Linked DNA regions of Homo sapiens. The protein of the gene in region 2 interacts with the protein of the main gene of each other region in a biochemical or structural test. Each region holds a gene or a part of one and is shown on either strand. Other genes may lie near its edges. The genes, in order: CREG1 and RBL1.

Region 1 (3,823 bases), on a different chromosome or scaffold from region 2:
AAGCATGTGCTGCTCCTCCATCTTTTTCCTGCCAGTGAAGGACACTCAACTACAGAGATGCATCCACAAAGAATTTACAGACCATAAATAACACTTGTCTGAGGCATTAATGATTGACACGGTCAAAAAGCAAATCTGCTGGCTGGGTAATCAGATCAGCACTCCTGACACCATGCCCACTGCTCTTCCTGAGATTGTATTTGACCTCTTCCCTTCAGCAGGTGATCCAAACTAAATTCACTTCCAGTTTTCAGTAATGGATAGTCCTCTGGTTGGCCTACTTAATATGTTTTCTCTGCTTTAAGCCACTGTTAAAATATGGAGACAAGGAGCCCAGACATGGAAAAACATTATACCAATGTAAAATGTAATGGAGAGTAGAGGGCTTTGGTCAACCAGATGCTCTTTAGTAAGAATAACTTTATATACAGGAGCTTCATAGTTGTTACATCTGCTTGGCTTCAGAAAATCATTCATTTTTGTCATATCTTATTTAACACCTATATGAAAGCAACTTATTAAAACGTTTGGTTTTCATGGAATTACTTCACCTATTAGAATAGAACATGTTCTGACTGGGCATGGCAATCACAAATCAACTGCATTTCATTCTGAAAAGATCTATTCTGCCAGGCATAGTGGCTCACGCCTGTAATCTCAGCACTTTGGGAGGTCGAGGTGGGTGGATCACTTGAGGTCAGGAGTTCAAGACCAGCCTGGCCAACATGGTGAAACCCCATCTCTACTAAAAATACAAAAATTAGCTGGGTGTGGTGGTGCGTGCCTGTAATCCCAGCTACTAGGGAGGCTGAGGCACAAGACTCGCTTGAACCCAGGAGGCAGAGGTTGCAGTAAGCCGAGATCACACCACTGCACTCCAGCCTGGGAGACAGAGTGAGACTCTGTCTCAAAAGAAAAATGATCTATTCTTTCATTGTGAATACGATGGTGTTCTGAAACCATCTCCCTTCCTGTAGGATAACTACTTACCTTGGTCACAGTTCCTGACAGCATTATGTGAACACAAAGGGGACTTTGTGGATCAAATCCATGTTTCTTGCAGAAGTTGGTCTGTGCCAAAGTCATGGTCAGTGTAGCATATGGATTCTCCTATAGAGAGAAAATGAAGATCCTCTCATGTGAAATATGGTTTCTGGAGAGGTAATAAATTTCAAAAGTTGCATACATGATGTCCCTAGAGCTTGACTGGTCTTCCACGAAACAATGAATCATAAAACATCACCTTCCACTCAGGGGAAAATAATACTTGGAAAGTATCCTGACCACTCCCCAAAGGGGGTGCGGGGGTTCATATTTAAAATGAACTGACTTGGTAAAAATTATTTCAATATTCTTTTTCTGAAACCCTGAATTTATTCCATATTCATCAGAAGAATTATAATTATAGTGACACCCAAATTCAAGGCTGTTCTATAGGCTTCACTGAAAGATTTAAAGGGTTAAACTCTATACAAAACCATTGCTAAAAACACCACAGTTGCTCAATTGGCTAACTACGCGATTTAAGCAAGAAAGTAGCTGAATCATGCTACTTGGTTATCTTACATTAGCAGAAACTGTCATGTGATTTCAAAACTGGAGAAGTTGTTCATTCCTGCTTTAGTAACAATGAGTTTTATCCCACATTCAAAAAGTAACACAAGTAAAATTCTTAATGCTTTCTTATTCAGAAATCAACTTCATAAAAGGCACTGTTGACAGATTATAGCAAAATTCACACATCGCATTTTAGACTATTTAGCTCTTTAAGCTCTAAGTGCCTTGTGTGGAGAATTTTGCCATTTCACACTGACCCATCAAAACAAAGAGTCATAAAGAGATTTCTTTGAAATCATTTAGCCAAATAGTCACTGTCTAGAAACTATTAGGCAAGGCACCACAGGAGACCAAAGAAGGGGAGGGGGACACTCAGGTAAACTCTCTCCCTCCGTGAGTTTATAATCTGGTTGAAAAGGCAGACATAAACAAATGTGTATGTCCAGCATAGACCAGAGTGATAGAGGAACTGTAAGGAGCTTTATAATATATTCAAAACCAGGATAGAAGGTGGGAGGACATATTAAAGGGAGAGGAGACACTGACTGCAAAAAACACAGAACTGGGTGAGCCTAAGACTTGATGAACAGTACCAAGAAACCTGATTTGCTGGAAAGAAGGGCTTTCCTACGGGAGGAGCCTGGGGTTGGGAGTGGAGAGGGCTCCAACCTAAGTTAAGGAGTCTAGATTGTAATTTGTGGGCCAACCTTAGGCACTGTTTTCTAAGAACCACCTGCCTGGAGAGCTTGATAAAATGCTGATTTGGGTTAAAATGTTGAAACAGGCTTCACTCCCAACCCAAATAACTGCAATTTTTTTTTGTTTTTTTTTTTTGAGACGGAGTCTTGCTCTGTCACCCAGGCTGGAGTGCAGTGGTGCGATCTCAGCTCACTGCAACCTCCAACTCCCAAGTTCAAGCGATTCTCTTGCCTCAGCCTCCCGAGTAGCTGGGATTACTGGTGTGTGCCACCACGCCCAGCTGATTTTTGTATTTTTAGTAGAGACTGGGTTTCATCATGTTGGCCAAGCTGGTCTTGAACTCCTGACCTTGTGATCCACCCACCTCGGCCTCCCAAAGTGCTGGGATTACAGGCGTGAGACACCGCACCTGGCCTGCAATATTTTTTTTAAGACAGTGTCTCACTCTGTCACCCAGGCAGCCACCCAGTGCAGTGGCACAATCATGGCTCATTGTGGCCTCAACCTCCAGGGCTCATGTGATCCTCCCATCTCATCCTCCTGAGTAGCTGGAACTATAGATGTGCATCACCACACCCGGCTAATATTTTTTTATTTTTTGTAGACATGGAGTTTCACTGTGTTGCCCTGGCTGGTCTCAAAATCCTAGACTCAAGTGATCCTCCCACCTCGGCCTTCCAAAGTGTTGGGATTACAGGCATGAGCCACCAAGCTGTCCTCTATCTGCATTTTATTATTTAGAAACAGAATCAAGCTCTGTCACCCAGGCTGGAGTGCAATGGCGTGATCTCAGCTCACTGCAACCTCTGCCTCCCAGGCTCAACTGATGCTCTCAACTCAGCCTCCCAAATAGCTGGGACTACGGTCGTACACCACCATACCCAGTTAATTTTTGTATTTTTAGTAGAGGTGGGTTTCACCATATTGGCCAGGCTGGTCTCAAACTCCTGACCTCAGGTGATCCGCTCACCTCGACCTCCCAAAGTGCTGGGATTACAGGCTGGAGCCTCCGCACCCGCCTCTATATGCATTTTAAACAAACATCCCAGGTAGCTCTTACGCAGCTATAGGCAGCTGGGTATTGTTAAAGGTTTCTGGCCAGAGGGCAATGCTGTGACAGGTATTTTTGTTAATCTATTTGGGTAGGCAAGGTGGATGGGGCAGACAGGAAGACTATGTAAGAGCTGTTCTAGTACTTTTAGGCATGAGATGATAAGCTTAAGGATGAGGTGGCAGGAATGAAGAGGAAGGGGCAAGGACAGAGGTAAAGAAGGCAACAAAAAACTGTCAGGACTTGGGAACTGAGGGATTTGGGGAGGCAGTGAGAACCAACTGGGTTTACTGAGAAAACAATAATTCCACTAACAGAAATGCAGAAGATCAAAAGCAGCTTGTTTCAGGAGGAAGAAGGACTGGATTTAAACATGTTGAATTTGAAGTGGTGGCAAAGTAACGAAGCAAAAATGAACAGCAAGCAGAAATATAGAGAACTTTGAAGAGGTCAGAAATGGACACACATCTGGAAGTGAGTCCTAGTAAGGACTAGAAGAGAATGTATACAACGAGA
Region 2 (3,823 bases):
TTGTGTTCCTTTACATTAATGAACAATCTAAAAAATGAAATTAAGACAATTCTACTTACTTATTACTTACAATAGCATCAAAAAGAATACTTAGGAATAATCTTAAGCAAGGACTTGTCTTGCAAAAGACATATACAGAAAACTACAAAATGTTGCTGAAAGAAATTAAAGAAGACGCAAATGAAAAGACATCCTATGATCATGGACTGGAAGACTTGACATTCTTAAGATGTCAACACTAGCCAATGCGATCTCCATATTCAATGCAATCTCTGTCAAAATTCCACAATGTTTTTGCAGAAAGAGAAAAATCCATCCTAAAACTCATACAGACTCTCAAGAAATCTTAAATAGCTAAAACAATCTTAAGAAAGAAAAACAAAGTTGGAGGTCTCACACCTCCTGATTTTAAAACTTATGACACAAAGCTATGGTTATCAAAACAGTGTGGTACTGAATACAGATAGACATATAGTCCAATGAATAGAATAGAGAGCCCAGAATTAAACCCCCATATCTATGCTCAAGTGACTTTTCAACAAGGATTCTAAGCTCATTCAATGGGAAAGGGCAGTCTTTCAACAAATCGTGCTGGGAAAAATGGATATCCATGTGCAAAAGAATGACTTTAGACCCTTATCTAACACCATATACAAAAATTAAAATGGGCTGGGCGTGGTGGCTCACGGCTGTAATCCCAGCACTTTGGGAGGCTGAGGTGGGCAGATCACTTAAGCTCACGAGTTGAGACCAGCCTGGGCAACATGGTGAAACCCCGTCTCTACAAAAAAGTTCAAAAACAGGCCCGGCGTGGTGGCTCACACCTGTAATCCCAGCACTTTGGGAGGCCAAGGTGGGTGGATCACCTGAGGTCAGTAGTTTGAAACCAGCCAAACCAGCACGGTGAAACCTCGTCTCTACTAAAAATACAAAAATTAGCCAGGCGTGGTGGCATATTCCTGTAGTCCCAGCTACTCAGGAGGCTGAGAAAGGAGAATTGCTTGAACCCGGGAGGCAGGGGTTGCAGTGAGCCGAGATTGCGCTACTGCACTCCAGCCTGGGCAACAGAGTGAGACTCTGTCTCAAAAAAAAAAAAAACAAAAACAAAAAACCCAAAAAACGAAAATTAGCTGGGCATGGTGGCACATGCCTGTAGTCCTAGCTGCTCAGAGGGTCGAGGTGGGAGGATCATCTGAACCTGGGAGGCGGAGGCTGCAGTGAGCTGTGACTGCGTGACTGCACTCCAGCCTGGGTGATAAAGTGAGACTCTGTCTCAAAAAAAAATAGACATAATAAATATAAGAGCTAAAAACTATAAAACTCTTAGACGAAAACATAGGGGAAAAGTTTTATAATACTGGATTTGGCAATGATTTCTTGTGTATGACACCAAAAGCACAGACAAAAAATGAAAAGAATAAATTGACTTTATTAAGATTAAAAACTTTCATGTGTCAAGAACACTATCAACGGAATGAAAAGGCAACCCACAGAATGGGAGAAAATACTTGTAAATAGTATATTTTATAGGAGATTAATATCTAGAATACATAAAGAACTCCTACAATTTAACAAAAACAAAACCCAAAACTCATAATTAAAAAAATGGGCAAAAGACTCGAATAGACATTTCTATAATGAAGATATATAGATGGGCAAAAGCACATGAAAAGATACTCAATATTACTAATCATTAGGGAAATGAAAATTGAAACTATAGTAAGATGTCTCTTTATACCCATTGGATGGCCATTATCAAAAAAACAAACAAACCAGAAAACACGAAACGTTGGCAACGATGAGAAGAACTTGGAACACTTGTGCCTTGCTAGTGGTAATGTAAAATGGTCCACCCACTGTGGAAAATGGTACGGTGGTTCCTCAGAAAATGAAATACTAAATTACTCTCCCATTTCTGGGAATATACCCAAAGGAATTGAAAGCAGAGACTTGAATAGATATTTGTTGCTATTTTTTTTTCTTCTTAAGACAGGGCCTCGTTCTGTTGCCCAGGCTGGAGCGCAGTGGTGTGATCTCGACTCACTGTAGCCTCAACCTCCTGGGCTCATGTGATCCTCCCACCTCAGCCTCCAAAATAGCCAAGACTATAGGCATCTGCCACCATACCTGGCTGCTTTTTTTTTTTTTTTTTTTTAAAATAGAGATAGGGTCTCACTGTGTCGCCCAGGGTGGTCTCAAACCCCTGGGTTCAAGTGATCCTCCTGCCTCGGCCTCATAAAGTGCTGGGTTTACAGGCATGAGCAACCACGCCTGGTTTGAACAGACACCTGTACACAAATGTTCATAGCAGCATAACTCACAATAGCCAAAAGGTAGAAGCAACCCAAATGCCCATCAGCAGATGAATGAATAAACAAAATGTGGTATTAAAAAAAAGTATATTCATATGATGGAATATTTTTTCTTTTGTTCTTTTTTTCTCTTCTTCATACAATGGAATATTATTCAGCCTTGAAAAGGAAGGAAATTCTGGCACAAGCTATAATATGAATGAACCTAGAAGACATTACGCTAAGCCAGTCACAAAAACAAACAAATATCGTATGACTTCACTCATAGGAAGAACCTAGAGTAGTCAAATTCACAGAAACAGAAAGTAGAATAGTAGTTGCCAGAAGCTGGGGAAAGGGAGAAATGGATACAGAATTTCAGAATGGGAAGACGAAAAAGTTCTGGAGATAGACGGTAGTAATAAAGCTGCACAACAATGTGAATGTATTTAATACCATTGAACTGTACACTTAAAAATGGTTAAAATGGTAAATTTTGTGTTATGTATATTAGAAAAAAAAAAGACCAAAGTCTGTCTCTGTTACTCAATCTTTCTTCCATTGATTAAACAAATTCTTCTAAAGTGCTATAAAAACACATACCTTTCTGTAAAATAGTGCTAAGGACCCAGTTCTCTTTGGCCTGTTTATTCCAGTTGAATGTACCTCTTGTGCTTTAGTCAGATTGGTCTGTTTTGGAGAAGCACCAATTAATGAATGAGCAGTAAGTGATACAGGACTCTTGACTTTGGACTCCTGATTTGTATTCATGGAAAGAGGTATCAGTGTGATCTCTCCAGCATCATTTGCGACACCTGAATGTATAAGCATTATTAGAAATAATCTGCATATGTTCTAGGAAAGTTGTCAACTATATATATTTTGACAATTATATATACATATATCTGTGTGTATAAGAAGGCTACAAAATAGTAATTCTAGGTTATGACTGAATTCTTTTTTTTTTTTTTTTTGAGACAGGGTCTCACTTGGTCACTCAGGCTGGAGTGCAGTGGCGCCATCTCAGCTCACTGTGGCCTCGACCTCCTGGGCTCAAGTGATCCTCCCATTTCAACCCCCGCAAATAGCTGAGACTACAGGTGCAAGCCACTATGCCTGGTAAATTTTTTTTTTTTTTTTTTGAGATGGAGTCTTGCTCTGTCGCCCAGGCTGGAGTGCAGTGGCGTGATCTCGGCTCACTGCAACCTCTGCCTCCCGGGTTCAATTCTCCTGCCTTAGCCTCCTGAGTAGCTGGAACTACAGGCACATGCTACCACACCCGGCTAATTTTTAAAATATTTTTAGTAGACACAGGGTTTCACCATGTTAGCCAGGATGGTCTCGATCTCCTGACCTCATGATCTGCCCTCCTCGGCCTCCCAAAGTGCTGGGATTACAGGAGTGAGCTACTGTGCCCGGCTTGTATTTTTTTTTTAGAGATGGGAGTTTTGCCATGTTGCCCAGGTTAGTCTCGAACTCGTCAGCTCAAGCCATCTGCCTGCCTTGGCCTCCCAAAATGCTAGGATTACAGG

The links.
Region 1: the proteins of RBL1 (region 2) and CREG1 form a complex in vitro, tested with the Homo sapiens proteins (one study listed by BioGRID).

The regions. Positions count from the first base shown.
Region 1 is NC_000001.11:167,547,012-167,550,834, forward strand, and holds part of CREG1 (protein CREG1 precursor), read right to left. Parts: intron 1,111-3,823; coding exon 991-1,110; intron 1-990.
Region 2 is NC_000020.11:37,029,771-37,033,593, forward strand, and holds part of RBL1 (retinoblastoma-like protein 1), read right to left. Parts: intron 3,107-3,823; coding exon 2,895-3,106; intron 1-2,894. UniProt on the Homo sapiens protein: Key regulator of entry into cell division. Directly involved in heterochromatin formation by maintaining overall chromatin structure and, in particular, that of constitutive heterochromatin by stabilizing histone methylation.